6 separate regions of the Homo sapiens genome follow, and all the other regions are linked to region 6. Evidence: fine-mapped expression QTL. A gene starts in region 6. Each other region holds a variant in brackets. All regions are shown on one strand. Distances are from middle to middle. Region 1 overlaps SPTBN1 (spectrin beta, non-erythrocytic 1). Region 2 overlaps SPTBN1 (spectrin beta, non-erythrocytic 1). Region 3 overlaps SPTBN1 (spectrin beta, non-erythrocytic 1). Region 4 holds the start of LOC124906008 (a long non-coding RNA gene). Region 5 overlaps SPTBN1 (spectrin beta, non-erythrocytic 1). Region 6 holds the start of SPTBN1 (spectrin beta, non-erythrocytic 1).

What was found. PIP is the estimated chance that this variant, and not a neighbour inherited with it, causes the effect. A credible set is the group of variants that fine-mapping cannot tell apart.
Region 1: its variant is the best candidate, but not a certain one, in a credible set for the expression of SPTBN1 in amygdala (GTEx, PIP 0.89).
Region 2: its variant is the best candidate, but not a certain one, in a credible set for the expression of SPTBN1 in gastroesophageal junction (GTEx, PIP 0.54).
Region 3: its variant is the best candidate, but not a certain one, in a credible set for the expression of SPTBN1 in tibial artery (GTEx, PIP 0.57).
Region 4: its variant is the best candidate, but not a certain one, in a credible set for the expression of SPTBN1 in blood mononuclear cells (TOPMed, PIP 0.59).
Region 5: its variant is the best candidate, but not a certain one, in a credible set for the expression of SPTBN1 in blood mononuclear cells (TOPMed, PIP 0.85).

Annotation. Positions count from the first base shown.
Region 1 is chr2:54,623,529-54,628,601 of GRCh38, reverse strand. It overlaps SPTBN1 (spectrin beta, non-erythrocytic 1), which reads right to left. Exons shown (of 36, transcript NM_003128.3): 10 at 5,006-5,073; 11 at 3,640-3,798; 12 at 2,368-2,670; 13 at 352-505. Among named protein-coding and RNA genes, the nearest start is that of SPTBN1-AS2, 54 kb to the left of the region's middle. The variant A/G (reference allele first, on the strand shown) is at 2,033.
Region 2 is chr2:54,504,075-54,509,147 of GRCh38, reverse strand. All of the region lies in intron 1 of SPTBN1 (spectrin beta, non-erythrocytic 1), which reads right to left. It also overlaps the pseudogene C9orf85P1. Among named protein-coding and RNA genes, the nearest start is that of SPTBN1, 50 kb to the right of the region's middle. The variant T/G (reference allele first, on the strand shown) is at 2,188.
Region 3 is chr2:54,564,527-54,569,599 of GRCh38, reverse strand. The region is part of intron 2 of SPTBN1 (spectrin beta, non-erythrocytic 1); the gene reads right to left. Among named protein-coding and RNA genes, the nearest start is that of SPTBN1-AS1, 8.4 kb to the right of the region's middle. The variant GC/C (reference allele first, on the strand shown) is at 2,097.
Region 4 is chr2:54,588,898-54,593,970 of GRCh38, reverse strand. The region is part of intron 2 of SPTBN1 (spectrin beta, non-erythrocytic 1); the gene reads right to left. It overlaps LOC124906008 (a long non-coding RNA gene), which reads left to right and starts at 4,537. Exons shown (of 3, transcript XR_007086322.1): 1 at 4,537-5,073. RefSeq lists an enhancer at 4,307-4,356. The variant C/T (reference allele first, on the strand shown) is at 2,187.
Region 5 is chr2:54,629,624-54,634,686 of GRCh38, reverse strand. SPTBN1 (spectrin beta, non-erythrocytic 1) reads right to left here. Exons shown (of 36, transcript NM_003128.3): 14 at 4,884-5,063; 15 at 4,658-4,795; 16 at 3,076-3,832; 17 at 1,919-2,121. Among named protein-coding and RNA genes, the nearest start is that of SPTBN1-AS2, 48 kb to the left of the region's middle. RefSeq lists a silencer at 4,434-4,493 and enhancers at 4,684-4,733, 4,963-5,063. The variant G/A (reference allele first, on the strand shown) is at 2,421.
Region 6 is chr2:54,454,329-54,459,401 of GRCh38, reverse strand. It overlaps SPTBN1 (spectrin beta, non-erythrocytic 1), which reads right to left and starts at 3,075. Exons shown (of 36, transcript NM_003128.3): 1 at 2,884-3,075.

The DNA of each region.
Region 1 (5,073 bases), 170 kb before region 6:
CCTCCAAAGAGAGGTATATGCAACCAGCTGTGAAAGCCAGGAGCTGCTGGAACAGCCACACCAGGGTGTCGGTGCATGGCCAGAGAGACTGAGGTATGACAAAGTCTCACTGCCAAACACCAAGCCACTCAAAGCAAAGGCAGCATTTGCGTATTTAAGGAAAGGATGTATCAATTCCAGAAAAACAAGATGGAGTTAGTGTTCAGAAGGCCACTCCACCGTATTTCATGCTCCCATGACAAACCCACCAGGAATGTATAGTGGCACAGTAACTTCAAAAGCCCCACTGTGTTTCTATAAATATGAATCTCTGGTGACCCGGAGGTAATGCTTGGAATGGGCCATCCTTACCTTCCCCGTCTGTTGCGAACTTCTGGGCGGAGGCATTGACACCTCTCACCCGCTCTGCCTGGATGCCAATGTCTGCTTCAACCAGGGTGTGCTTCTGTAACAGGTCTTCCACACCAAGTAAGTGTTTGCCATAGTCTTGAGACAATACTAGCACCTGTGCACAAGAAGCAACCAAAAGGACATCTGTGACTATAGCCTTGACTTCAGCATCACATCATCTTTCGACAAGCAGAGAGCCAGCAATGAAGCTATGCCTTCCCTCTAGTCTGCCATGGACCCCACACCTTCAGGGGAAGATGATGGCCAACAAACCAGAACAAAACAAATCATACCTGAAGGCCTGAGTCAGGAGAGCTATCACAAACTAAGGATCACCAAACTTGGAATAAGTAAGTCAAATCTACACTAAAAAGTGCAGAATAGAAGAAAAAGATGGTGAGGGCCAGCGGGGCCAGGGTGGGGGGGAGGGGGCAGTGGGGAGCGTGGGCGGGGGTGCTGTATGAAAGATTCCAAAATATAAACTGGAGCTTCAAGAAGAAACCGCTGCAACAACTACTCAAAAATAAATAAATAAAGGTGATAGACTTGGTCACTTCAAAGTTGAAAGAAATCTTTTAGAAGTTGCTGAGCCTGTAAGTGAATGTTTTTCCTCTGTTAGGAGCTTATTGGTATGCCTCTACTGTACTTACACAATCAATGGGAAAACAATCTACTTGAAAAGCTTACAAGCCACATCTTTAAACCAATAAGGAGAGCAGGGTCAGGTGGCTGTCTTGCTTAGTAGACCCCAAGCAACTTCTAGAGTTTAAGTTTGAACCCACTGATATTTTCTTGTTTCTTCCATCAACCAGCGAAATTTGGGGGCCTCATTCTACATCCTCGCCAGATGAGATTTCTACTTCACTCTTACTTCTGAGGAAGTCTCTGGACCAACTGAGTTACAATGTGCATCATGATTTATAAAATGAAAAGTCCCTCTCTGCTACATTTTACGAACATTTCTATTTTGAGAGGTCAAGAGAGACCAGACCTAAGAACACTGTAAATCTGGAACAATAGGAGGGAAAACTGATGGTATCAGATGACTTTGCCCCTCTGTCAGGAACAGTCCAAGAGGTAGGCAACAGATGACAGCTTATATCCTGGGAAGGGAATCTCTTGCATAAGGTCAAGCTTGGGAACACAGCGTGCTGAGACAAAGGAAGCTTCATGGGACTGTCTGAAAACTGTCCTATTTTCTTCTGTCTACAAGGCTAAAGGCCTCCCAGCTGGAGAACTGCTTGGCATGGCTGAGCATTCCATGGCCTGCATTGGAGGACATGAACAGGTACAGGGCCATGGCATGATAGCAGGTCTCTTCCTGGGAAGGGGGAAAGGTTGGAACTCTATGCTAAGAGCAGTCAATAAATGGCATGACCAGCCACTGCCATCCAGCCCATCCCATGATCTGTGCACATACTACCGCATTCCATCCTTGCAATAATTGGATGAGGTAGATAGTAAGTACAATCTCCATTTAAAGACCAAGAAAGAGGGCTCAAAGAGGATTAGGCAACTCAGGCACTCACAATCAGAACTCTGGCTGCCTGGTTCCTGACCTCTCCTCTGTCCATGGCACCTACCACTCCTCCCTTCTCCCCATACCACCTCTCCGGGACCCCTGCCCAAAGTAGTACCACTC[A/G]CTCACAGATCAATGAAACGGTAAGTTAGTTTAACCCTGAAAACTTAAAAATAAAGAAAACCACAATGTGATTGATTCCCTACACTGGAATATATCTAAGTCACAGAAACAGAGCTCTGGCTACTGAACTGGTCTCTACAACTTTTTCACACTTCACGTCTCATTTAATTCCTGAGCTAGCAATCTTCCCATGGGTGATGTGGCTCCTCTCTAGCTGTACATGTGGGCAGTTAGACAAGGCACACAGCTGTACGTAGGGGTTTAGTGAATGAGTCACAGAAAAGAGAGCCCTGGTTGGATCAGCTCTGTCGTCCTTCCTTTCGGTCAGGTTTTACCTTCATTTCATCCATCCAGTCCATAATGTAGAGCATTTCCTGGAATATCTTCTGCAGCCCCAGGTTCATCTCGAGCCGCTGTCTCCGGGCCCTGAGCAGTTCCAGTAGGTATTCCCAGAGCCGGATGACATTGTCCTTCCTCGCTGTGATGCGCTTGATGTCGTGGTAATTCTCGGCCTCGAGCTCCCTGGCCACGGCTACCACAGCCTGCACACGCTCCTCGTATGCGGCAATGTCTGTCTCAATGGCCTCGTGCTTTTTTGTGGCGGCCTCAACTGCAGGAAGGTCAAACCCAAAGTTGTCCTACAGAGAAACGGAATGAAAAGAAGGAAAATAAAAAATCCACCCGGGCACAGTAGCTCATGCTTGTAATCCCAGCACTTTGGGAGGCCGAGGCGGGCAGATCACTTGAGGTCAGGAGTTCGAGACTAGCCTGGCCAACATTGTGAAACCCTGTCTCTACTAAAAATACAAAAATTAGCCGGGCGTGGTGGCACGTGCCTGTAATGCCAGCTACTTGGTAGGCTAAGGCAGGAAAATCGCTTGAACCTGGGAAGCAGAGGTTGCAGTGAGCCGAGATTGCGCCACTGCACTCCAGCCTGAATGACAAGAGTGAAACTCTGCCTCAAAAACAAAACAAAAACAAAACCAAAAAACCTATTTCCCGCGCCACCCCCCCTCCAAAAAAGGAAAAAGAACAGACATGAAATCTTGAGCACACATTAATCCCTGGTGGTCTTAAAGCCAAATCTGACTCCTGAGTCCCCCACCCCACTGGTCTCTGCCTTGAGCTTAGATGCCCTCCTCAAAGCAAACTAGTAACTGCTCATTTTGCAGAAGGGCCCAGTTCGTATCTAGTACCTTACTGAAAAGCTAGAGCAGGTGATAGCTTATGTCAAGCCAGGTGGAAAAGCAAGCCATTTTTGTTTATTTCACAACCAGTCTAACTGCCTCGTAGGATTAGTTGGTCAAAGATTAAAGAAAAGAGAGAAACTGTTAAAACTTATAAATGTGAACAGTTCACACACACTCAATGGCTCTAAAACAAACTCTGCTTGAGCTGCTTCCAAATCTATGAAAAGTTAGATAAATAGAAATGTATATTAGAAATTATAAACATCCTCTTAATGGGAAGGGGCCAAGGTGACCTGACGTTCCTCCAGAATAATGAATGTCGATAAGCAGCTGTCCTCTGGCCCTATGCCCCTGGGGATGGTCTGTGTTTCTAGATTACCCTAGCAACAGTCTTTTTAATAATGTCAAGAGCAGAACCTGAGACACCAGACGCTGGTTTTCGCTCAGCCAAGTCTCCCTCATAGCTGCCTTGCGATCAAATCTGCGGGCGAGCTGTTCCAGTTTCTCCTGTCTTATGAGCTCATTCCGCAAAGCCAGTTCTCTTTCGTGTTCCGCTTTTTCCAGTCTTTCCCAGGCCTACAAAAATGAAAATACACACACACACAAACACAGTTTCCTGCAGTGTTCAAGGAAACTTCCGTGGTTACAGTCAACAGCTAATATTTCTCAAAAGGACCTGACAGCTTGAATGGGAAATCCCATTCCCACTCTCACTGACTCTCAAGCCTTGAGGAAAAAAACGGGTTTTTCTCTCAGTGTATCCTCATGGGAACACTCTTCCGTCATCTAAATCTAAAGATTCTGTGTTGTACTTGGAAAACAAAACTGTAGCTATGAAGCAATATAAGTAAATTATAAATCTCTTACTTTAAGAGGAAATAAATTATCTTAAATAGCTTTGATCATATAAAAAAGATAAATGATTCTTCTAAGAATTCATATGAATTTCTCATTCATTCCACCCTGGGCCACTTTTAAAAAATTTACACATCTGAAATTTCTTTCAAAATCCTGACCTACTGTCCATATTAAATTCATTCCTAGGAAATCTATTTCTTCACCTAAAAAAAAAAATCAAACCTTCCACTCGAAGGAATCTAAGTGGGGCCAGACGCAGTGGCTCACGCCTATAATTCCAGCACTTTGAAAGCCGAGGTGGGAGGACTGTTTGAGGCCAGGAGTTCAAGACTAGCCTGGGCTATATAGTGAGACCCTGCCTCCATTAAAAAAAAAATTTTAATGAGCAGCATAAAGGAATGTAGTTCTGTACAAGTGACCAAAGTTCTAGAATTTTTCAAATTTCTTTCTAGTTGGAAATAATGCCTGCTGTGAATTTCTATAACTGCAGGCATAATAGGCATGATGATTAAAATTGCTTATTTGACAGCATCTCTAATGCAAGAAGCCAACATCCTAAGCCCCACAACTACTATGAAACACATGAAATAAGGTTTCAATTTCTCCTTTCTGTAATTTAAAGATGTTTGAAACAATTGCCTCAGATGAGAAGTAAAGTGATATGTATCTGAGTAGCAAGGTGTATAGCCTACGCCAAAGCTGGTTTGATAAAATCTAACATTGCCCCCTGAAGCCTCCAGCAGCCTAACCCGGTACCATTGCTTGCTTGGTCCTTTGCCACACCTGAGCACCAGCTGCCAATTGTCAATTCGGCAGGTGGGGACAGCCCCTTCCAGTCTCTTGTCCTCTTAGCAGTCGAGACCTAGTGATAGAACCTGAAGCCTCCAGGAGGTCAGGGCCCATGCAGAGTCCAGATCCACTTTACCTTGTTGATGTCAGAGATGAGCTTCCCCTCCCGGGGCATGTAGACCTTCTGGTTGTTGGCCCTCATCT
Region 2 (5,073 bases), 50 kb before region 6:
AGGCCTAATCGCCACTCACCAGCAAAGGCAGGCTATGCTATAGTATCTTCCACATCTATCACTGAGGCTACCGCTCTGCCCCCCTCCATTACCTCTCAGCAAGCTGAACTCACTGCCTTAACTTGAGCCCTCACTCTTGCAAAGGGACTACCCATCAATATTTATACTGACTCTAAATATGCCTTCCATATCCTGCACCACCATGCTGTTATATAGGCAGAAAGAAGTTTCCTCACTATGCAAGAGTCCTCCATCAATAATGCCTCTTTAATAAGAACTCTTCTCAAGGCTGCTTTACTTCCAAAGAAAGCCGGAGTCATTCACTGCAAAGGCCATCAAAAGGCTTCAGATCCCATTGCTCTGGACAACGCCTATGCTGATAAGATAGCTAAAAAAGCAGCTAGCGTTCCAACTTCTATCCCTCAGGGCAGTTTTCCTCCTTCTCATCTGGCCACTCCCACCTACTCCCTCGCTGAAACTTCCACCCATCTCTTCCCACACAAAGCAAATGGTTCTTGGACCAAAGAAAAATCTCCTTCCAGTCTCACAGGCCCATTCTATTCGTCATTTCATAACCTCTTCCATGTAGGTTGCAAGCCGCTAGCCCGCCTCTTAGAACCCGCTAGCCCACCTCTTAGAACCTCTCATTTCCTTTCCATCGCAAAAATCTATCCTCAAGGAAATCACTTTTCAGTGTTCCATCTGCTATTCTACTACTCCTCAAGAATTTCTCAGGCCCCCTCCCTTCCCCACACATCAAGCTCGGGGATTTGCCCCGCCCAGGACTGGCAAATTGACTTTACTCACATGCCTCGAGTCAGGAAACTAAAATACCTCTTGGTCTGGGTAGACACTTTCACTGGATGGGTAGAGGCCTTTCCCACAGGGTCTAAGAAGGCCACCGTGGTCATTTATTCCCTTCTGTCAGACATAGTTCCTCGGTTTGGCCTTCTCACCTCTATACAGTCCGATAACGGACCGGCCTTTACTAGTCAAATCACCCAAGCAGTTTCTCAGGCTGTTGGTATTCAGTGGCACCTGGTTTTTCCTCAAACTGCCACCCTTAAGTCTCTCTTTAAGTGGATAGAAGATCTTCAGTGGCAAGGTACCCTCCAATACTTTCACCCTGATGAAGTCCTATTCTTTACTTTTATACTTACTCTTATTCTCATTCCCGTTCTTATGCCACCCTCTACCTCTCCCCAGCTATCTCTATCACACTATCAATCTCAGTTACTCTCTCCTAGCCGTTTCTAATCCTTCTTTAACAAACAATTGCTGGCTTTGCATTTCTCTTTCTTCCAAAATCACAAAGGTCTCGACTTACTGCTAAAAAAAAAAAAAAGGGGACTCTATATTTTTAAATGAAGAGTGCTATTTTTACCTAAATCAATCTGGCCTGGTATATGACAACATTAAAAAAAACTCAAAGATAGAGCCTAAAAGCTTGCCAACCAAGCAAGTAATTACACTAACCCCCCTTGGACACTCTAATTAGATGTCCTGGGTCCTCCCAATTCTTAGTCCTTTTATACCTGTTTTTCTCCTTCTCTTATTCAGACCTTGTGTCTTCCATTTAGTTTCTCAATTCATCCAAAACCATATCCAGGCCATCACCAATCATTCTATACGACAAATGTTTCTTCTAACAACCCGACAATTATCACCCCTTACCACAAAATCTTCCTTCAGCTTCATCTCTCCCACACTAGGTTTCCATGTTGCCCCAGTCCTGCTCAAAGCAGCCCTGAGAAACATTGCCCATTATCTCTCCATACCACCCCCCAAAATTTTCCCCACCCCAACACTTTACCACTATTTTATTTTTCTTATTAATATAAGAAGACAGGAATGTCAGGCCTCTGAGCCCAAGCTAAGCCATCATATCCCCAGTGACCTGCACGTATACATCCAGATGGCCTGAAGCAACTGAAGATACACAAAAGAAGTGAAAATAGCCTTAACTGATAACATTCCACCATTGTGATTTGTTCCTGCCCCACCCTAACCGATCAATGTACTTTGTAATCTCCACCACCCTTAAGAAGGTTCTATATAATCTCCCCACCCTTGAGAATGTACTTTGTGAGATCCACCCCCTGCCCCCAAAACATTGCTCTTAACTCCACCGCCTATTCCAAAACCTGTAAGAACTAATGATAATCCCACCACCCTTTGCTGACTCCT[T/G]TTTTGGACTCAGCCTGCCTGCACCCAGGTGAAATAAACAGTCTTGTTGCTCAAAAAAAAAAAAAAGAGAGAGAACCAGATCAACCTAAACTTTACTTTCTCTGGAGAGACTCTTCTGAAACCCCTAGTCCCAGCCCAGGGCCTCTCCTGTTCTATGTTCCTACTGGTTTGTTGTTTTTTCATAGCACGCACTACGATGGTGTTTAAATAATTACCTGTGTATTTATTAAATGACTATCTTGCCTGAAAGTATACTGTACTCTCCAAGAACTATTGGGTATTTCTCTCTTTTTCATCAATGTATCCCTAAATATAGTGTCTAGCTCCCAGACAACAATACACAAATGTTTAATGAACAAACTTTATACTTAAAATTTTCTCAGCTTCGAAGAGTATTAGAAGCACTTTCCCTACCAATTCCTCTACTATCAAGAAGAAAAAATTACTCAGTTCATCAAGTGGTAAATTTTTTCAAATGTAAACTATAAGTAGAAAAAAAAAAACCAAACAGATAAGCTCTTGTAGATTGAGTCATCTATATTTTTTAAATTATATTTACATGAGAATTTTTAAGTTCTCTCACTGACCAAAAAGCTTCAAAAGCAACTTCAAATTTCTAAGACAAATTTTCACTGCTGTCTGAGCAGCCATGCTCAAGGGTGCCGGCTCTGGGACAGGTCCATGGCCTGGTCAGCCCTTTCCTCACAACCTCCGAAAGCACATGTAGCACGGGGAAGGTCCCAGGGCCAAGAGAGGATTCAAATTATTCAAGCACACATACAGTCTTGCATTCAGATTTTATTTATTTATTTATTTATTTATTTATTTATTTATTTAGAGACGGAGTCTCACTCTGTTGCCCAGGCTGGAGTGCAGTGGCGCGATCTTGGCTCACTGCAAGCTCCACCTCCCGGGTTGACGCCATTCTCCTGCCTCAACCTCCCAAGTAGCTGGGACTACAGGCACCCGTCACCTCGCCCAGCTAATTTTTTGTTTTTTTAGTAGAGATGGGGTTTCACCGTGTTAGCCAGGATGGTCTCGATCTCCTGACCTCGAGATCCGCCCGCCTCAGCCTCCCAAAGTGCTGGGATTACAGGCGTGAGCCACCGCGCCTGGCCCAGATTTTTAAAAATAAAGTTCCCAAGGTTGGAAGAGAGAAAAACTGACAGCAATTCAAGGAAAACGTGGCAAGCTCAATGTGAAGCAACAGCAGAAGATACAACTAAAGGAAGCTTCACTGTTAGACGCCAAGTTAAATCACCCCAGGTACTGACCAAGCCAAGAGTGTCCAGAAGGGGCAGCCAGGCTGTAAGACACCTAGGAGACCCAGCCCAGGAGCTAGGACCCCTGGGGAAAAGTCCAGGAGACACACCTGGCAGGTATGTGCAGGCAGCTTCAGGAGCCTTCCTGGGAGAGCTGGCACAGATTTCCCAGCAGGCAGGGAGCAACAACTTCACAGTGGCTAGGGGTTAGGAGGTACTTTCTAACAGCTAGAGCGCTCCAAAAATGCAGAGAGCAGAGAGGTATTCGATTTGTTGTTGTTATTGTTGTTGTTTTCACAGCACACACTGAAACAATGTTTAAATAATGACCTGTTAAATGACCATCTTGCCTGAAAGTATACTGTACTCTCCATATATTCAACAGGATAGCTACAGAAAGAACTGAGTACTGTGTGGGAAGCCGGGATGCATGCATTCCAAGATCTCATCCAACTAACAAGCATCAATAATTTGTTTAACCACCAAGTATTCACACCATTCTTGTGATCGAATACAATGTGGTAATACTATAATATGCAAAACTTGGTTCCCAAGGTGTGTAAGACACTCTCTCTTCAATGAGGCTCAGAAGATATTTCAAAATAATGGCTTTTCCAGCTCTATGTTTAACTGAATCACCATTACTTTAATTGTAACCATTCTTTGTTTGGGGTGTTGTCATATCAAGAAAATATTTGCACTCTATAAACAAAGTATTCTTCTACAAACATTTATACACGTTTTCATTGGATTTCACAACCCCACTGAAAATAATGAGCAAAAAGTTCTCAAAACAGCTTCTGCATTCTGATGAAAACATTCATTTTAAGTACGCCACTGGAAATATTTATCACTAAACCAATTACTTTATTTGGGAATTTTACGCTTTTTAAAATATTATAAGGTACTAAGTAAAACATTTGCTTATTAAAAAAAAAACCTTTTAATTAGAAAATACAGTCATCCCTCACTACCCATGGGCAATTGGTTCCAGGACCTCTTATGAATACCAAAATCCATGGACGCTCAGGTCCCTTATATAAAATGGTGTAGTATTTGTATAAAACCGACACACATCCTCTCAAATACTTTAAATCACCTAAAGATTACTTATAATTCCTAATACAACGCCTACACATCACCTTACTCACATGGATTCAATGCAGTTCTCAGTAAGCAGCAAATCGTGCTTCTGCTTTTTCGAACTTTGTGGATTTTTTTTCCCAAATATTTTCTATCCATGGTTGGTTGAATTCACAGATGCAGAAGCCATGGATACAGGGGGCCAGCTGTACTGCTTAGGCTGGTATGACTTCTCAGTCACCCAAGGAATATCCTTAAGTCTAGGATTTTATTCTCCGAAAAAGGAGGAAATATTCCTACTAGCTAAATAGATATGAAAATCCAAAAGGTTTTTATTTAAGAAAGTCATAGAACATCAGAATGTAAAACAGCTGTGCCTTGCAGGACCTTTGTTTACACAAACCTCTCTGCCTCTTCAGGTTGGAAGGAGGGGAGGTGGGGGCACCTCAGAAAGTAGTTTTCCTAACAAATTACTCCCTTACTTTTCTCCTAATCAGACATTTGCTTTAACGGAGATTTGAACAAGTCAGTCCCACCCAGT
Region 3 (5,073 bases), 110 kb before region 6:
ACATATGAAAAGCTTAAGATGATGTTAAGTAAAAAATAAAAAGCCAAGACAAAACTCGTCTATATTAACACTTCTAAACTGCACGTGTGTGTATATGTGTGTGCTTATATATATTAACTATTGGAAAGTTAAAATTTGTAGGACTTGTGGGATCTTACGTGAACTATTCTTTCACTTTTCTTTCTTTTCAGGGCGTCAATACTGCTGTGACATAATAAATATATAAAAAGTATCTAGAGTAACAGGAAGGAACAGCTAGAAATTTAACTTAGTCCATTAATAACCTTCAACCCTGCCTTTGAAAGAACAACCCCCAGTCCCCTCTCCAGTACTGCTGCTTTCAACTGGCCACAACCCTTCCATCAGGACGGTTCTGGAGTGTTGCCAGCCAAGAACTGAATTCCCTTATCTCCCCCACCCCGTTCCTTTCTTCTTCCCAGGGGTAAAAACTTCCGGCCAACAAGTTTCAGCAGGTGTTTTTTCTCCCCTACCCAATCAATAACCAGTAATTTTAAAGTTTCACCTACAAACTCAGAGGAAATGAGCACTTACCATGTAACAGATATTTCACATACTTCAAATCCACTATTAGCGCTAAAACCTGAAGGCACCACTAGGTAAGTTTGATGTGCATGAAACTAGACTGAAGTCTAACCAACTGCAAGAACAGGAACGTTCATTTAATATAGGATCATTCTACTAAGATGAAGTGTGGCTGAAGAAGAGTATTTGTGCTTTGTTTCTGAAAAAAATAGTTTTAAAGTATTTAAAAGGTTTAAGTCATAAAACAGGTATGGACTCATAAATTTCTACTTCCCAGGACATCATGCTGAAATTCTGGAATAATTTAGAGAAACTGACCCAGGGTATTTTTGTGATTCTCCATTAATATCAATGGGTAAATATGAAAAGAAACTGTTTTTTTACCTCACAAATTTCTAGAACTGCAGGACTAGCAAATAGGAAAATCCCAGCCAAATTCTATAAAAGACTTACTTCTAAAGCTCAGAATTAGTTAACTATGTTTTAAAGCCCTGTAATCTTCTAGAGCAATACTAAACTTCCTTTAATTAACTATTATACTCAAGATTATTTTTATATTTAGTTAAAATAATCCAGTTTATTCAAAAAAACCAAAAACTCCTCCATTTAATGAAACTATTTCCTTGTCTGTTCATAGGAGTTAGAAGGCAGACACCATTACTTCCAAGGCAGTGCTTCTTCTTCTTTTTTTTTTTTTTTTTTTTTTTGAGACAGAGTCTTACTCTGTTGCCCAGGCTGGAATGCAGTGGTGCAATCTCGACTCACTGCAACTTCTGCCTCCCAGAGTAGCTGGGATTACACATGTGCGCCACCACAACCGGCTGATTTTTGTATTTTTAGTAGAGACGGAGTTTCACCATCTTGGCCAGGCTGGTCTCGAACTCCCGACCTCTGGTGATCCGCCCGCCTCAGCCTCCCAAAGTGCTGGGATTAAGGCGTGAGCCACCACGCACTGCCAGCAGTGCTTCTTAAACTTGAACAGGCATACAAAGCACTTGGGGATTTTTAAAAGACGAGATTCTGACTTAGGAGGTCTGTGGGGAGGTCGGCCTGAGATGCTGTATTTCCAACAAACCCCAAGTCATCTATCTATACTGAATAACAAGGTTCTAAGTCCCCTATTTCACTTTCAAAATTCTAGGAGGTTATGTCGTTTCTAAGTTTCTCACTCCAGCAAATAAAACACTGGTCTTCTGTCTCCTTCCTTGACCAGCACCCTCCAAAACGATCATCATACCAGCAGTCAGACTAGCCTTTCTATATATATAGAGAGAGAATAAAGCATGCCTCAGTGACCAGAGTTAAGAAATTTATATATAAATGTAAATAGGTATATTTATATTTAAGAAGTGGATGAGAGGCTGCCTGGTGGGTATCATGTGCATTGCTCCAGTAATAGATACACTCAAGGCCTTGACTTCACCACAATGCAATACATGAATGTAGCAAATTGCACTTGCAATCCGTGAATATATACAAATAAAAATAATAAAATTAAATTAAAAATCCAGATTTAAAATCCTCTCCTATTTAAAATCCTCCAGTATTGCTGG[GC/C]ATGGTGGGTGGTGCATGCCTGTAGTCCCAGCTACTTGGGAGGCTGAGGTGGAAGGATGGCTTGAGCCCAAGAGGTAGAGGGTTGCAGTGAGCCAAGATTGTGCCACTGCACTCCAGCCTGTGTGACAGAGACCCTGTTTCCAAAAATAAATAAATAAATAAATAAAATAAAAATCCTCCAGTACCTTCCCACTGCCTTACGTCCAAACTCCTTTACCTAACAGGGCCTTGCATCCTTTATTATCCTTCTAGAATCCTTCCTACCACCCCATCCTCACTCTGTACTTTAAGGTCCAGTAACCCTGAACCTGCACAGATTCCCCTACCTCAGTTCCTCACCTCTTACCTAGATCAAGTTTATTTCTCCACTTGCTTCTATTAATCAGTTGGCTTAGCCAGCATTCCCAGCACAGCTGAAACACACCCATGCACTTTTTAACCAGACGACAGCTGCTCACTGGAAAGCAGGTAATCAATAAATATTTGTTAATAAGTAAGTAGAATACCAAAAGAGCAAGCCCTGTATTTTTTAAAGTTTTATTTTAGTGTTTTATTTCCTAGGATCCTTCCTGCTTTTAAAGTAGTCTAAGTTAGTGCCAACAACTGCCATTTTAAATGGCAGGTTCTCTGCACCAACAAAATGATTTAACAATCATCAAACTTTTTTTTTTTGAGATGGAGTCTCACTCTGACGCCCAGGCTGGAGTGCAGTGGCGCAATCTTGGCTCACTGCAACCTCTGCCTCCCAGGTTCAAGCAATTCTCATGCCTCAGCCTCCCGAGTAGCTGGGACTACAGGCGTGTACCACCATGCCCAGGTAATTTTTGTATTTTTATTAGAGACAGGGTTTCACCACGTTGACCAGGCTGGTCTCGAACTCCTGACCTCAGGTGATCTGCCTGCCTCGACCTCCCAAAGAGCTGGTATTACAGACATGAGACACTGAGCTTGGCCTGTCAAACTTTTAAGTCAATGCAGCAGAGAATATTAAACATTTGAAAAACATGCTTACAGGGGCCAGGCGCAGTGGCTCACGCTTATAATTCCAGGACTTTGGGAGGCCAAGGGGGGTGGATCACCTGAGGTCAGGAGTTGGAGATCAGCCTGGCCAACATGGCGAAACCCCATCTCTACAGAAAATACACAAATTAGCTGGGCGTGGTGGTGGGCGCCTATAATCCCAGCTACTCGGGAGGCTGAGGCAAGAGAATTGCTTGAACCCGGAGGCGGACGTTGCGGTGAGCTGAGATCATGCCACTGCACTCCAGCCTGGGCGACACAGTGACACTCCATCTCAACAAAAAAAAAAAAAAAAAAGAAAAAAGAAAAATGCTTACAATGCCCTTATCCTTTATTTCCCCCTTTCATTTGTTTTTCATAGCTGGGTTTCAGAGTTGATAGAAAGTTGTCAAGAGAGAAAAGGCACTAGGATCTACAAGTGGCTAAACCCCACCTGGTCTGTTTTGATTATGTGCACAAGAGGTGGAGCTATCATTAACTAAAAACTTAATGCTCTGTCACTGTCCACATTATTTTCCAGAAGGTTAAAAGAAAAAACAAACCCTGAAGTCCTTACTTGAATTGCTGTACTATATTTACTAGTAATCAACAATACTGGAATTGTCAGTGTTCATTTATATGTAGAAGTTTTCTTTAAAAGGAATACAGTCATGGAAACAACAGCCATCCTTCACATTTTAATAGTACATGGATGTTTCCAGGGAAACTTCATATAGATCATATCATTTGCTGGTCAACACAATCTTGTGAAGCAGACCTGGCAGTTATTCAAATAAGGAAAGCAGCCTAGATATTGATCTGTCTCCCTTACAGATGCCAAGTTGCTGGGATTTTTGTTTTTTAAGGTTAAATTCAATAGATTATTTATTAAGAATATAAGTGAAACTAACCTTGATGCCTTGCTGAACTATCCTTAGAGCCTACACACACTATTAGGTTTATCTCTATTTTTTCTAAACTTATATCTCTTTCTATAGTGGCTCTTGAGCCAACTGTGGGAGAACTGAGGCAGGTAACTGACCCCACCTGAGGGTCATCTGAGGCAGAAGAGGTGGCTGAGACAGATGTTCAACGGCTTCTCTAATTTAAGCAGGACAGAGTCCATTCCTGAGTAGCTAATGTTTTTCCCACTGTTTCACAATTTTGTTCTAAAAAACATATTTTCCCCCAACTCTTCATTCTTCTATAAGAAATCAGGTATAATACCTGCTCCTGTTTGGGAGCAACTTAAAGAGTCTGCTTCTCCATCCCCACCACAAAATTTTGCAAAGATTGTACAAATGATCCAATAAGGGACTATTTCTCAAATTTTAGTGTGCACCAGAACCACCTGGCAGAGTAGCTGGAAACACTTATTGGTAGGACCCACCCTAGAATTTCTTATTCAGTAGGTGAGAAGTGGAGATCTGAGATTTTACATTTCTAGCCAATTCCCAGATGATGCTGATGCTGACCTGGGGACCTCATTTTGAGAACCTCAATTTGGGAACCACAGCAATAAGGGAGTCTATAACACTGACTTCATTAATTTTGCTCTTTAGCAAATATTTAGCGGCTTGTATGTGTAAGACAGACTATTCAGACTTTGGTCTTCAGGCTCCCAGACTTCACGAAATACAGGGAAAACAAAAAGACAAAGACTGGAACTGTAACAAAAGGCAGTAATGAAAAATCACAGGTGAATGATCAAGCGCTGAAACTTCAAATCTTAAAAGGAAGGGAGTCCAAGCAGGGATGTTGACCTCCCCAACCTCCTGGAATGCCTAGAATAAGTGGCATCTGAACTGAACCTCAAAAGACTGATCCTGACACATGAAATGATTCCCTGCAGAAGAAACCAAGAGGGCAGGGTGTCAAGGGTGCCAAAATGCAGGGCAGGTTTAAGGAATCACAACTTCTGTGGGGTACAGGTGTGGCAGCAGCTGCAGCTGGGACTGGAGTCAAATCCCAGCAAAG
Region 4 (5,073 bases), 130 kb before region 6:
ACCCAGCTACTCAGGAGGCTGAGGCAGGAGAACTACTTGAACCTGGGAGGCGGAGGTTGCAGTGAGCCAAGATCATGCCACCGCACTCCAGCCTGGGCGACAGCGTTAAGACTCTGTCTCAAAAAAAAAAAAAAAAAAAAAAAAAAAGTGTTTCCATGATACAAGACTTAGAATTACCCACCATCTCACCATCCTAACTAACGCAAGTCCTTATTTTGTAAAGGGTCTGCTGCATTATTGGGTAACTCTCCATCTGTTGGGATGGTGTCTCCATCAAGACTAGACCTGTCTCTGTGGCCCACTATGGCTTGCACCACCTTCAGAGTATGCAGAATAGGTCTCCTCACTTCTCCATGTAAAGGCCCTCAGGTTCAAACACTTCTCACCATCCCCTCTTTGCAATGCTGTACAATGTGGTACAAGTGGGATCCAAGATCACACCTGAGGACCCCACCTCTAGGCAGCCTGGACATCACTTACCTACCAACACAACCCAGGACTCGAGGCAGCTGCAGCTCTGGCAGTCCAGGGAGGAAAGTGGAAAACAAAGTGAAAAAAGGACAAAAAGAACCAGCAGCCCTCCGTGGGAGGAACGTGGTGAGGCTGTCTCTGTGACATGACAGGGGTGGGAGACAGAAAGAAGGGCTCCTAACAATGGTCTCAAAATAAGCTTCTCAGGACCACAAATTCTACCAAAATGACCTTGGAGCCCCGAGAACCTAGGAACCAGAAATGGTTCTGAGTGTGAAGACCCAACCAGCTCAGCCTTTAGTTCCACAGGCTCAGAGATAAGTAAATTAGCTAACTACTGTCAATGAGAACTACTGAGACAAGAAACCCACCCTCAAGTGAGTGGCATTTACATCAGATTCTGATTCCCAGAAGGAGTAAATTATAAGGGAAATCCTAGTATGGTGCTCCTTCCTCCAGATGGAATTTTATAAGATGGTGTGTCTGCAATAACATTGCCATGCATCTGAATGGCACTTCATACTTTCTCTAAGCTCACTAGATCTTCACAGCAAACTATTAGGTAGGTGGGATGCTAGAGTTATCTCTAGCAAAGCCCAAGGCTCAGTGAGGTTAAGGGCTGCTAAGTGTCACCAGCCAGTAGTGGTGAGGTCCTCGGCTCTTTCTCTCCCACTCCAGCCAGGCAAGAGGGATTAAGATGCATAGCTACACCTTCTCCTGTCATATACTGAGATTCACTATCTTTTGTTGTTTGGTTTCTGATAAACAACTTGAAATTCTTAGAAGATGTATTAGAAAAAAAGGATGAGGTAGCTGGGCGCGTTGGCTCACACCTGTAATTCCCAGCACTTTGGGAGGCCAAGGCAGGTGGAATACCTGAGGTCAGAAGTAGTTTGAGACCAGTCTGACTAACATGGAGAAACCCCCATCTCTACTAAAAACACAAAATTAGCCAGGCGTGGTGGCGCATGTCTGTAATCCCAGCTACTCGGGAGGCTGAGGCAGGAGAATCGTTTGAACCCGGGAGGCAGAGGTTGCGGTGAGCCAAGGTGGTGCCTTTGCACTCCAGCCTGGGCAACAGGAGCAAAACTCTGTCTCAGATAAAAAAAAAGAAAAAAGAAAAAAAAAAGTATGAAATATTTAGAACTGAGAAACACATTTGCTTAATGGTTAAAAAAAAGGGCTGTGAATATCCTCTCCACCATCATCCTCTTCTAGAAGCATAACATCTACTTCTTTTCTTTTTAGGGAATGACTGTGATAAATACTGAAAGGCTGTAATGCGTCTATGTAATTTTTTAATTTATATTTTTAAATTAATTAACCAATGAATATATTAGAGAAGGAGTCTGTCACCCCAGCTAGAGTGTAGTGGTGTGATCACAGCTCACTGTAATTTTGGACTCCTGGGCTGAAGCAATCTTCCCACCTCAACCTCCAGAGTAACTAGGATTACAGGCATGCACCATCACACCTGGCTTTTTCATTTTTTTTTGTAGAAATAGGGTCTCATTAGATTGCCCAGGCTGACCTCAAACTCCTGGTCTCCAGTGATCCTCCCACCTTAGCCTCCCAAAGTGAATTACAGGTGTGGGCCACTGCACCCAGCCCCATATTTATTTACTCTAGAGAATTTGCTATAACTGAAAAAATGAACACTGTGTTAGCGTGAGTCAAGTTAGGATACAGAAATAGCTTTGATGAGCAGAAGGGCA[C/T]TGCATGATGGAAATGATTGTACGGCATCTTTCTGCAATACCCTCAGCACAGAGTGCTAAACACAACTATATTCACCATATGCCACAGTTCTGGTTATGGAAAGGGATGGGAGCCAGGAATGAAGGAAAGCCTGAAGGCATGGAACATCTCCGGATGGAAAAAAAAGGAAACATAGAATCAGGAACTGTCAAAAGACCCTATTCATTGTTCCCCTAAAGACTGAATTTATACCTGGCTTAAGAGAAGGAATCTTTCTTTTACTTTTCAAGTAGTCTGAACCTGCACGTATAACCCAGTAATATTTTCTATCAGGCTCTTCAATTGTGCTAAGATAATGGCCTACCCCCTAAGTAAGAGACAGCAATCATGTAGTTTTTGCTTTGCACAGACATATAGTTAAGTTAGGTGTAGTCTTGGGTTCAAAGTAAGAAAGAAAGGAATTACAGGGATGGAAGTTAAGAAGAAATCAAAAGGGGAGGAAGCAATCATCCCATGAACATATCCCCACTATTTAAATCAATAATACTGTGTTAGCTGACTAATCTGAAATTGAGAGTATTAGTGAGCTCCAATATTACAAAGTGCATACTTTACCTAGAACTCTGTGTCTAAGATAAAGTCTCTTACCCTCAATGAACTAGAAATCTAGCTGGGGATACAAAATAAAAAGTTAAAAAATAACAAAAAGACATTACAAAGAAGTACAAGATCAGTTGCTAAGAGAATAATTTTGACAATCTATTTTTGCGTGTTTTGAACAAAGCTCACCACAATTTGGGTGGTTTCAGACCCCAACTGAACTCCCCTGCCTTGGGCCTCTCTCCGCATTCTAATCCACCTTAAACATCACTACCATAGCCATGTTCCTCAATCAGTGGTTTTTCAAAGTTGCAGCACTGCACCAAAACCTTCAACGGACCCCAGCTATCCAGAAGACAGTCCAAATCTCTGAACCTGGCATTTAAAGGTCCCAAACGGGCTCTCCTAAGGCATCAGCTTCATCTGGGAACTTCCCTGACATGCCGTCTTTTGTTCCAACCTAACAGGTCTTACTCTCATGCTCTGAACTCTCACCTTGCACACTGCTTTTTCCCATCTTTGCTTCTATCATTCTTCTAACCTAGAAGGCAGTTTTCTCTTACCCTTCCTTTAAGATCCAGCCAAGATTAGTTCTACCAAGAGGCCCTCTCCTATCAGATGTCAGCAATCATCATTTGATGGGATGTGGTCTCTCATCTTTTATTATACGTCTTGTGTCCTATCTCTTCAATTAACTTGCAGTTGGCTCAGAGGCAAAGGCTCAATCCTATTCATGTTTAGAGCTTTAGCATATACATGACATAAAGGAGGTGCACAATAAACATTTGTTCAATGAGTCAGCAAACCTCCAGTGTCCAACAACTAGGTTCTCGATAAATCTTATTGTTGGTGGTGGTCTCACTGAAATTGTTGAGGAGGGAAATTTCATATCACAAAGACAGGCCCTAGGCAGTTAAATGTTGTCATTGTATAGCACTAAAAATATATGACAGGTGAACTGCTTCTTGCAATTCCTCAATGTCTGAAATACGGATAAAAATGCAATTTTGTGGTGCTGTCATTCAGACTAAAATGGGTCCAGAGCCAAACTAAAATGTTTGACAAATTCTGTTTTTTGTTTGCTTGTTTTATCTTTGGGCAATTGCCACCACATACCTGTACGGTAAAGTGAAGTTGCAAAATACACAACGGTGTGATTAGGACATCATTGTAACATATTACAACATTATTTAAACATGACCCAATCAGGTCAATTGTCACAAGACTTAATTTGTTGCAACTTTAACAATTTATATATTAAAGTTTAATTCTTGAACTGTTTTAAAATAAAGAATAAAAAAGGATCTTAACTCAAAACAAAAGAATAGTGGTAGGGTGGAGTCCCCCTATATGCCTTAGCTTGAAAAAATAAATAAATCATTTCCCATGAGTAACATGCAAAATACACAGAGCAGGAAGCCGGAAACAGGCAGCTGGCTGTATTGATAACAGAGAATCCAACTGTTATCTTGAGGCAGCAACAGGAAGGAAACTAATCTTTTGACTGAAGTCCTCCCTGTGACGGACTAGTCTGAAGGCCTTAAATTCATGTTTGCTGATTTGTATAAAAATAGAATTTGAGTTACAATAGTTTCCTTAACTGTTTAACTTGCATCATGGACAAAACACATGTAAATATTTGCTCTAAATGCATGTGAAGCAAATATGCAATTGTCTGCTAGTAACTGTCTGATGGGCCGACTACAAAACCCACCATGAGCTCTCTATGACCTGGCACCTACAGGTTGCATCTGCTGGGCAGTCCCTCCTGCAGCTTCCAGAGGGCCTTTCTTCTGAGCGGCACAACCCCAGTTTGCCAATGTGGAGACCAAGGCACTGCAGGCACAACTTCTGAGAGGAGACCCACAATAACTGAGAAATGAGGCTCTGTCACCAGGGTCCTGCCTCTGTCACAGTCGTACGTCAAGGTGAGCCGCATAAAGTCACAATCCATAAGAAGCCAAGACTCTGGAGGGAGCTGAGGTTATGATGGGGGCTTTCTCCGAAAATAAGAGGCAAAGCAACACAACTACCTCTTCTAAGATGAGAGCTAAGGTGGGAACCAGTGTGAATTAATCAATAATAAGTTAATTGTACATTTAAAGATAACTAAGAGTATAATTGGATTGTTTGTAACACAAAAGATAAATGCTTGAGGGGATGGATATCCCATTCTCCACGATGTGATTATTAAGCATCACATACCTATATTAAAACATCACATACCCCATAAATATATACATCTACTATGTATCCACAAAAGTTAAAAATATTTTTTAAAAAACAAAACAAAAAAAACCAATAGTG
Region 5 (5,063 bases), 180 kb before region 6:
ATCTGAAGGTTTAGATGTTTACTTAGTTTGTGCTCCTACAGCACCTGGAACTCACAGATGTGTGTGTTTTCATAACTGACAAGTACCCTCTAGGGTCAGTTTCAATTCTGTGGGCCTCTGGGGATATTAAAGTGAAATCAGAATTCAGTTAACATCAATGGAGAAAAATAAGAAAATGTAGTTCTCCTGATGGCAGGTCATCGGAAAGCTCCCTCCTTCCATCTTTATTATGCTTATTGATAGTACAGGGTTATCTTTACGTTTCATTTTTAAAACTGAGGAATCCTAAGGAAGCTCTGGAACACCAGTAGCCCAGGCTCTTGGTCAAGGGCAAAATGAAGGTTAAGCCACAACTGAGGGCTGCTGCTGCTGAAACGTTTTATCATATCCAGGAGTCTAGACAGCATCATCTGCTTCCAACAGCTTTGTGCAGTTGCAGCACTGGGGACATAAAAAGAAACCGAGGAAGCAGCAAGGCAGCTGCATGCCTGCCTGAATGCACACATCCCTAACAGCCAAGCCCGCCTGCAGGAAACCAGCTGTGTGCATCTAACATGGAAGTACATAGGATATCTTATTTACAAAATACTCAGAGTTAATATTACAAAAAAAGGAAATTCTTTTTCCCTAGGTTATGAATGCTTTGCCCAATTGCTGTTTCTCATGCTCATTTAAGGAGGGTTTGGTGGATTTATTTTTCTTTTTTGCAGCTGTTTTAAAAGCAACAGATACAAAATTATAATTAACATAAGTTATTCTCTATTCCACAATACCACCCTAGAACATATAGTTCAGCCTGGGAATCAGCTCAGAAAAAAAGATTGGAAGTGGTAAAGACAGGAGCTCAATCTTTATTGGAAACAGAGTAATCCCCTCTCCACCCATCTTATTTTAAGTCAACCTGACCAGGGGTCCCAGGAAACCCTCTCAGATGTGGTAAGCAAAGGAATATTTTTCCTTTCCAACACACTTGAAGGCCAGAAGAGAGGCAGAAAGGAAGGGCTTGTTTTTTGATTACATCAGTCTCACAGCAAGCCCTTAAATTCAACCCAAACTGGAACAGGGGCTAGTGATTGATCCAGTGGCTGGCCCAGACTGGCCTGTGCTAGTGCATCCAACCCCTGATCTGCCCCAACCTCCAACTTAAGTAACCGGGGCAAGGCAAGAGTAAGGAGTGAGTCAAAGAGTTAGGGTCAAACAGAGTCCACTGGCCTCCAGCCGGGGAGGAAATCTTTCAGACAGACAGACAGACACACACACGCACACACACACACACACGTAAATAAAAAAATAATTTTAAACAAGAAATGAAGAAAGTGTATCCAATCCTGGAGATGCCCTGGCAGAAGAGGAAAATAACCTTTGCTCTTATTTACCTCTCCATCATGAAAAAGATCCTATTACAGCACTATCCAAGCCAATTTTCTAAAAAAGTCCAGGTAATGTTCCTTTGTAGCTTTGCCAGGTACTCAGAACAAGCAAGCTTCACCCTCCCTTCCCACTCTCCTGACAGGCTTCTTTCTCATGGATGAAGGGGAACACGGGCTTGGCTGGGAATACCTGGCGCCAGGGGTCCTATCAGGTGACACAAGCGTGTGTTAATCCTCAAAGGGCATGGCTTACACCTGATCGCGATGCAGCACTACGGCTCTTACAGGTCCTCGGTTAAGAATTAGCTTGGCTTCTCAGGCTTTCTTTCCTTTTGTGGACACTTGTACATGTCTCACCAGACCCACATTCTCAGGCAGTCATGCACAGCTCACTAATTTTCTGTATGGGTAGATGAACTTCTGCTGGGCACCCATATTCTGCCCACTGGGAAATTTATACCTAAACTCCCAAGGGCTTCTGGCCAATGATTCAGAAGTTTGAGAGCCCCAAGGTGCAAGGCTCCCTTAAGAACCTCAGAAAACTGTACCTGTCATCAATAGAGTCCACCTTCTCCTGGATGCGATCTGAGTTGATGTTCCCATCGCTCACCAGCCTCCGGCCAGTCTCCACCACAGCATTGATCTTCTCCTCATTGGCGTCCATGGTGGTCATGAAGTCCTCTTGCTTTTTAATTGCTGCTTCAGCTCCTTCCAAGGTGGTAGGCATTTCAGTGTGAGCCAGAACATACTCCTTATTTAAAAAGAGGAACAAATCATAGCAGATCAATGAAGGATCTCATTTTCCTGTGTTCTACATTTCCGTGCAACATAGTTCACAACACTTTCTTCATTACACTTACATGAAATAATTAAATCACATCAAATTAAAAGTTAGGAGGAAAAAAACCCAGTGGGACACTGTAACTGACCGAATTTCCCTCAGGGGTTAATGCTCTAAATTTTTTTTTCCAAAGAGAGTGAGGAAAGGAACCAAAGCTTTGTGTATCAGCCTCAAGGGTCCTCTCACGTGCCTATCAAGGCAACAGCAAT[G/A]TACCCTTCATACTCTCTCTTTGAGACAGTAACAGCCCTGAAGTTGGTGACTATCCTCAGCTGTTTTTATTTCTCTAATCTCTACTTTGTGTCCTCAGGTGAAGTCCCTGACCCTTCTAGAGCAAGAAGACAGACTGGTCTCAAGAAAAAAAAAAATCCTCACCGTACTTTTTTTTTTTTTTTTTTTTTAAGAGACAGGGTCTCACCCTGCCACCAGGCTGGAGTGCAGTGGCACGATCACGGCTAACTTCACCCTTGACCTGCTGGGCTCAAGTGATTCTCCTGTCCCAGCCTCCCCAAGAGCTGGGATTACAGGAGTGAGTCATCATGCCTGGCCCTCACTGTATCTTTTAAATTGGATCAATACCTCAATTATGAAGACATACTATGAACACATAAGAGATCCTCAATGGCAGTTGAAATCAAACAGTACTTTGTAAGGCAAAGCAGCTCTTATGGCAACTTTCAATTCCTGTCCCCTACAACGTGATGGATTTCAATGCCTTAAGAGTATGGGGAAAAAAAAATCAGTCTCTAAATTATCCATATAATTCCATACAGGTGTGGTTTAAACCAGCTGCCCCAGCCAAAACATTTCAAAAGGCAGCCAGGGCTGCTTTCACCGAAAGGAAGCAAAGGCAGGAACAAACCTTACCTGGTTGTTAAGAAAGGCTTCGGCTTGCTTCGTGTCTCTGAGGAACTGCTGGTAGGCATGTGACTGGGATAGGAGATTTTGTCTGTTCTCCCACATCTTGTGGAGCTCGTTCCATCCAGTGTCCAGGGCCTGCAGCCGCTGCCGCAGAAACATGTACTGGGCATCGGTCTGCCCCTGGGTGACCATCTCGCCCATGTCCCTCATCTTCTGGTAGTCCTCCTCGTAGTTGTCGATCTCGTTCTTGATGTTCTCGTGCTGCGTGAGCAGCTTCTCAGCCTCGGTCAGGGTGTTTGGCATGTCCTCCGAGGCGATCGCTGTCTGGGTCCTAGAGAGCCAGGACTGGAAGTCGTCCAAGTCCCGTAGGAACTGCTGCAGCTTGCTGGCCTCTCCCAGGGAGGCCTCTCGGTTTTTCAGGGTGGTCTTCATCTCCTCCCACACGTCGCTGATCTCGGCCAGCCGAGACAGGATGGCCTGGGCCTGGTCGGGGTGCTCGGACTCCAGCTTCTCCGCCTCCTTCTGCAGGTCACTCAGCTTTGCCTCAATGGCCACCAAGTCCCGCTCCATGCCGGTCAGCTTGCGCTGCAGGGCCATGACGCCAGCCAGGTCATTGCCCAGGTCCTGGGTGGACTCGATGACCTTGGTCTTTTCCCGAATCCAGGATTTGGTTTCATTGCACTCGAGGTGGTAGTTCTGGATGCTCAGGGCAGACAGGAGGGCATCCTTCTTCCTGTCAACCAGTTCTCTGAACTGGCTCCACCTGTGAGTGCAGGGGCAGACAGCGAGTGTGAAAAAGGGAAGACTGACCATGGCTGGATTGCAAAAGGAACAGTGATGGGTTAATGCTGCTTATCTGTTTTCTCCATCTGTGCTTTGACTACATGCTTTTTTGGAAAATCATCTCACTCAAACTGTGAACACCAAATATAATGGAAATAGCTCAGGGATGCAATGTAATCTGGAAAAAGCCTGTCACGAAGAGGAATGTGTTACAGAGCTCCAATGTGAGCAATTACAAGATATCCATTCCCAGAGTCAATTAATTCATGTCTGTGACACATTTTACACATCTCTGAACTCTACCTAATGAACGTTTTCCAAATCTAAGACTGATGGTAACCTTCAAAACTGGGGCCAGGTGCCATAACCTACTCAAACATGTTTACTCAACAGAAAGATAAGACTGGAACAAAGGTCTGCCCTGACAATCAGGACTTTCATTGGCAAATTAAGTGTTAAACATGCTAGAGTCCTGTTCCTGAAGTTACTATAAAATGGATAGCACAGGTGTCATCTTAATACCTTCTACACTGGACACAGGTCAAACCAAGGCCCTAACTTTGGTGTGGCGAGGGGCAGATGCTGGGCTGACTCAGATAATCCTCCTGCAACCAATGATGTTGCCCTGAGAGACACTTCTTACAAAACAAGGACATGTCAAAAGGCAGGTGCCAATGCCATGACATCAGTGTTGCAATGTCGATGACCCCATGTGGGAAATTCCCAACAGCAAAGCTCGATGAGTGACCTCACCCTCCCCAGTCCCACACGTGGGAGGCTGGCACACTGCTGGCCACGTGCTCACCTTGTGTTGAGTTTGTCCTGCTGGGCTTTGATTTCCTTCTCACTTGGGTGGCCGCTGTGCATCAGCTGGCGTGCAATCTGGTTCACCACTGCAACCCGGGAAGCCTGGTTGTTCATTTCTGGTTCTAGGCTCTCAAATCTGAAATGGCAATTTGACAGGGTGGTCACCTCCTGGGCCACTGGTGGTCACAAGGAACAGGCCAGTGGCTGACCAGCGCCCCGCTCACCTGTGCTGGATGACCTCCAGATCCTCCAGCTTCTCTGGGATCTGCATGTTGTTGAGCCACTGCTCCTTCTCGTCGATCCAGAGCTCACAGGCATCAGCCTCGCTGAACATCTTGTACAGGGCCAGAGTGTCCTGGAGTGCCTGCTTCCGCAGCCGCGTCAGCTCTGCCACCTCCTTATAC
Region 6 (5,073 bases):
GGAAACTCTGCCAATGCCAAGCCTCTGCTCAGGATGTGTCACAAGTAGAGGGAGGTCTTCTCATTTGCTCTGCAACATCACAGATAGTTGTTACTAGTCTTGCCCAAGAGAAGTTCTTCACAGAAAACCTCAACTGTGGGAGACGACCTAGTGACAGCAGTTCCTTCACTGCCCAATACTTCTCCTCTCAGATGAAGGTTTTGGTCACTCCAGTAATGACAGAGTTACAAAGAGCTTAACCCAACAGAATTCTGCACCTGCTGTGTAAGTCAGAACAGCTAAACCTCCTGTGACATCAACACAGGATATTTCTTACAACAAAGTAAATCCAAAACGTTTGGATGATCCATGGGAACAACATTCATAAAAATCTGTACGCAACACGATTTTACACAACCAGCACAAAAAGTCTCATATTTTAATGGCTATTAGAGAAACTCAAAATAACGCACATACACCACACAATGTACATGCAGTTCTATTCTGCAGAGCCACATGAAATCAAAAGCAACTAACTTGGATTCATTAGAAATATTTAAAAATACAAGCAGGCACGCCCTTGGCTTGTAAACACTGACCTTCCCTTCCAACTAGCATATTGAAATTTCCTTTTTCACCTAAACATTTTAGGAAAGCCTGGGTTGACATTTGAAATATATCCCATTTGCCATCCCACACTGAATAATGAATTATAGAGATGGCATTTAGAAGGGAAATTCCCTGTGTCCTGGCCGAGACTAAACATGAGAACACTGGGAACCATCTCCTTCTGACTAGATGCCAGTCAAGAGGCCTTGGTGGTCTGCCCTTCTCCACCCTCTCCCCAGTCACAGCTGTGAAAAATATGTATACAAAAAATACATATAAACAAACACAAACGCAGTGTTACTGTCATAATCCCATTAATTACGCCCGGACACTTAACTTGGCTACCTCAATCAATAGAAATCTGAATACCAATTTAGCCCCCATCATGACACTCATACACCTAATAATCCTTAATAAAGCATCCAAATAATGCAACTGTACTTGACTTAGAAAAAGCAAACGATGAAAACAAAATACAAGCTAAAGGAATCATTTACTATCCATTAAAAAACATATAAATTCCTTTTAAAACAACCTACTGAATTTTAATATACTTATAAATGTCTTAGTGACATAAAACCCAAAATGCATTAATCATTTCATTTAAAAATGGTTTCCTACAGAAAAAATGCATACTTGGTATTAACCAAAGACAGACGAGGTACTGTAATGTCACAGTTGTGAAGGTCCAATTAATAAACACCAACTTTTCACGTAGAAAAAATTAATGCATAGCTGGGTTGTGGTTACAGATTATGGACGATCCACAGAAAAACGCTGCGACTCCCCACACTGCAACATTGCCTCCGCACACCACTGGGCCCAGTCCTTCCTGCAGCCCCTCCCTATGGCTCAGGTCCCCTGGTCGCAGATCAGATTCCGATCCGCAACCACAGGCCGGCTCCCCTCTGCCTGCACTGGTGATGCAGGGCGCCCCTCCGGCAGAGCGCAGCCCAAGAAGAGGTGCAGGAGGGATCATCCCAAAAGAAAAGACTCTCCCCTGCTCACACCTAGCTGACCTGGTCCTCCTGACGCCACATCCAGCAGAAGCTGCAGGACAAGGTAGCAGCAGCTCCAGGCCTCGGCCAAGGGCAGCCCCGGGCCTGGGTGGGGCCGGGCGGGGGCCGCAGGCGCCGAGCGGCCGTGCCAAGCCCCGCCAGCGAGAACCAAGGAAGCTGCGATACTGCTGCATTGTGCTGCATCACGGCGAGGGCACCGTGAGCCATCCATCTTGCCAAAAAAGCACATCCCCGCCCAAATAAACCCCACCGAATTCAATTTTCTGCTCCGCCGAAGCACCCCCACACGCACCCTGTCCTCACTTACTATCTGGCCTGGCTTTCGATTGGAAAAATAATGGACAGAGGTTTGCGTTCTGATCCCCACCCCCTCCTCATCTGATGGCAGCAGTTGGCACCTTTCCTATCACAAAAACAAAGAGAAGGCGCCCCCTAAAAGAGGGCCGTGGGCGTGGTGTGGGGGGTGATGACGAGCCAGCCCACCTACCCAAAGCAGGCCCGGAGGGTCCCTGCGCTGAGACAAACCTGTTGAAGAGAGGGTGGCAGGAGCTGAAGGGCGGGCGCAGCGGCGGCTCGGCGCCCGGAGGCGGCTCACGCCCAGCCCTGGGAGAGTGGGGACGGCAGAAAGGGCGGGGGGGGGGCGGGCGCACGAGGGTAGCAAGCGCAGGGATGGGGCGGAGGTGGGGGCGCGGGGCCGCCGCCTCCGGCTCAGCTGCAGCGCGGCGCAGCCGGGACCACGCCTGGCCGCATCCCCTGCACCGCTACGCGCAGAGCCCGGCCCTGTCACCGCCGCCCCCGCTCCCCACCCGCGGGGCCACAGAGAGGGCACCTGAAAATAGACCCTCCGGCTGTCCGCTGTCCGCTCCGCACCCACCTCCGCGCCAGGGGCCTCCGCGTCAGGGGCCGCCGCGCCCGGCTGCAGGGAGGCGCCGGCGGAGGCAGGGAGGAGGAATCGCCGCGCCGCGCCGGGGCTGGGGCCGGACGGCAGCGGTGCGCACGGCGGGTCTGCTGCCGCCTCACCGCAGAGCCTGCCGCCCCTCGTCCCGCATCATCCGAGTACCAATGAGCACCCGCGACCCGGGCTCCCCGCGCCGCCCCCGCCCGGGCTTTGCAGCCTCCCTGCCCCCACGCGGCTCCCCGGGCGCAGGGCAGGCGGGCAGCGGCGTCCTCCGGCCCTGGGCCCGCGCCCCTCCTCCCGCCCGTCCGCCGCCGCGGAGCCCACCCGGGAGGCAGCCCCAGTGAGTTGGCATCTCCCTGCCTCGGGCCCCCTACCTACCTCCCGGGGATGGGGTGGGGGCGCCGGGGTCCCGTCCTCCTCCCGCTCCTCGGCGGCCGGGCGGGTGGGCCGGGAGGCGACTCCGCGGGTCTGTCCGCGGCTGGGGCCGGGGCTCACAGGACGGGACCAGTGGGCGCTGCTGCGCAGGGCTGCGCGCTCGCTCCGGGAGGAGAGGCGGCCGAGGGAGGGACTGGAGGAATCCGCAGCCTGCACGGCAACAGCGGCACTGATTCCGGGGGCTGGGCGGGAGCGCGGGGGGCGGGGGGAGGAGGAGAGGAGGGCGCTCGCAGGGAGGGGGCGAGGGGCGGGGAGAGGAGCGCGCGGGGCGGGCGCGCGCGCACACACACACAAGCGCACTCCCGGGATCCCTCCCGCACGCCCTCCGCCCTCCGCACTCCTCCCTCCCCACTCCCGCCCGCTCCCTCTGCTTCGCCCGCCCTCTCCTCCTGCCCGGAGCCCCGCAGCCGCCCAGGGAGCCGAGCCTCGGGCGCGTCCACGTCCTCTCCAGCTGAGGCTCTTCCCGGGTCCAGCCCGGACCTCATCCTCCCAGCGGCGGGGACCGACCAGGCTGGCCGGGGCGGGGTGGGCACTGCTGCTGCCGCTACCCGAGCAGGACAATAGGGGCTTTGTCTCCACAGCCGGAGAGGGCCAATTTCACGTTTAATTTGAGGCTAATTCGATTATCGCCATGGAAAGAGGCGGTCTAATTTTCTACGTGATTTGTGCAGCCTCTTTTCGCCCTTGATGTTGCGTTCGGAATGCTGGGGAGAGAGGGTATTTAGGGAGGTTTTGGAGCGTCACTTGCTTGGTTGGTTTGAGATGCAGTTGGTGATGCCTTATAGGTTCTACCCAACTTGGAGAAGGGCGACGGCGACCTCTTCGTGGGAAACCTTGGGCGCTGGAGGATGGGTGGTGGGGGTCGTTCCTTGTGAGGTTAATGTATTCTTTTGCAAATGCTTTTTCGCCCACCCTTTCGCTTTGGGTAGCTGGGAGCAGACCCTACAAGTGGTTCATCCAACTCCTGCCTCTCAGTGCAGGCTCCGCTCGAACCTGAGGCCAGGTGCCCTGCCCCAGTCACTCCCGAGAGAGGGGTCGTCCGGCCGCGGTGGAGGGCCCCGTGATGGCGTGGGGACTTGCGTTTTCCCCTATGCGCATTCCCTGAAACGGAAACTGGACGTTTCCTCAAATTTTTGTCATGTGCCACTGCCCCTTCCCAGTCACCTGGTCTACCCCGTCAGCCCCTCAGGCTGTGTAGAAATTCCAGAACCGTCACTGTTGTGAAGAAAAGATGGTGGAATCACCAGGACCACGAATGGAAACGCTCTTTAGAAAAGCAGTTTGAAGAAACTGACTTTCTCCTTGTTCTGTAAAGTGCACAGGGCGGCACTGCGGGCATTCAGAGGGAGGAGGGCCCTTCCTGTTTGAAAAAGCCCCAGGGCTTTTTCCCCATACAGACCTGATCACCTGGATTAAAATAAAACAAAAATACACGGCAGCCAAGTAGTTTGTATCATGCTTATATCTCAGATCACTAGAACCTGGCCTGATGGGTTTATATGTTTGTATGTATTTTTAAATGAATATTTTAAAATAAAACTCAGTGAAATCGTCACAGCAAACTGAAGATGATTCTTCCTTTTAGGCCTTCATAGGTTTGAATGTTTGAACCTATGTTTACTTTTGATAGGAAAAAAATTGAGGAAAGCAAATAACATTTTTTCTCAGAAGGTGAATCAACACAACCAGACCGTAAACTCTCTTAAAGGTAGGGTTATTTCTTTCTTCACTCTGTACATATAGCAGGCACTTAGGTACTAAAACAAATTTGTTGAATTGAACACAATCAACTTGTAAGCTGCTGCCCTCATTAGGTAATAAGGGAAATCCACTAGAAAGCAAAGTTGTTTGCCTTTCACTTACTTATTTTTTTACCATGGACCCCAGCACCTCCCCACTCACAATGTTAATGAAATACCAAAGAAAACAGTAACAATATTGGGAAGTGCATCCATTTAAATTAATTCTTCCAGTGTTATTCTGAAATGGTTATTCCTTTATCACAGACAACGGTATTTAAATAAATTTTCATTTGATGAATGATTCACCTCCCTTACCCCATTCCACTCCCACTTACGTTGTTTTTTAATTAAAAAAAAAAAAAAGGCCACACACACCTTAGCAAGGTACTCT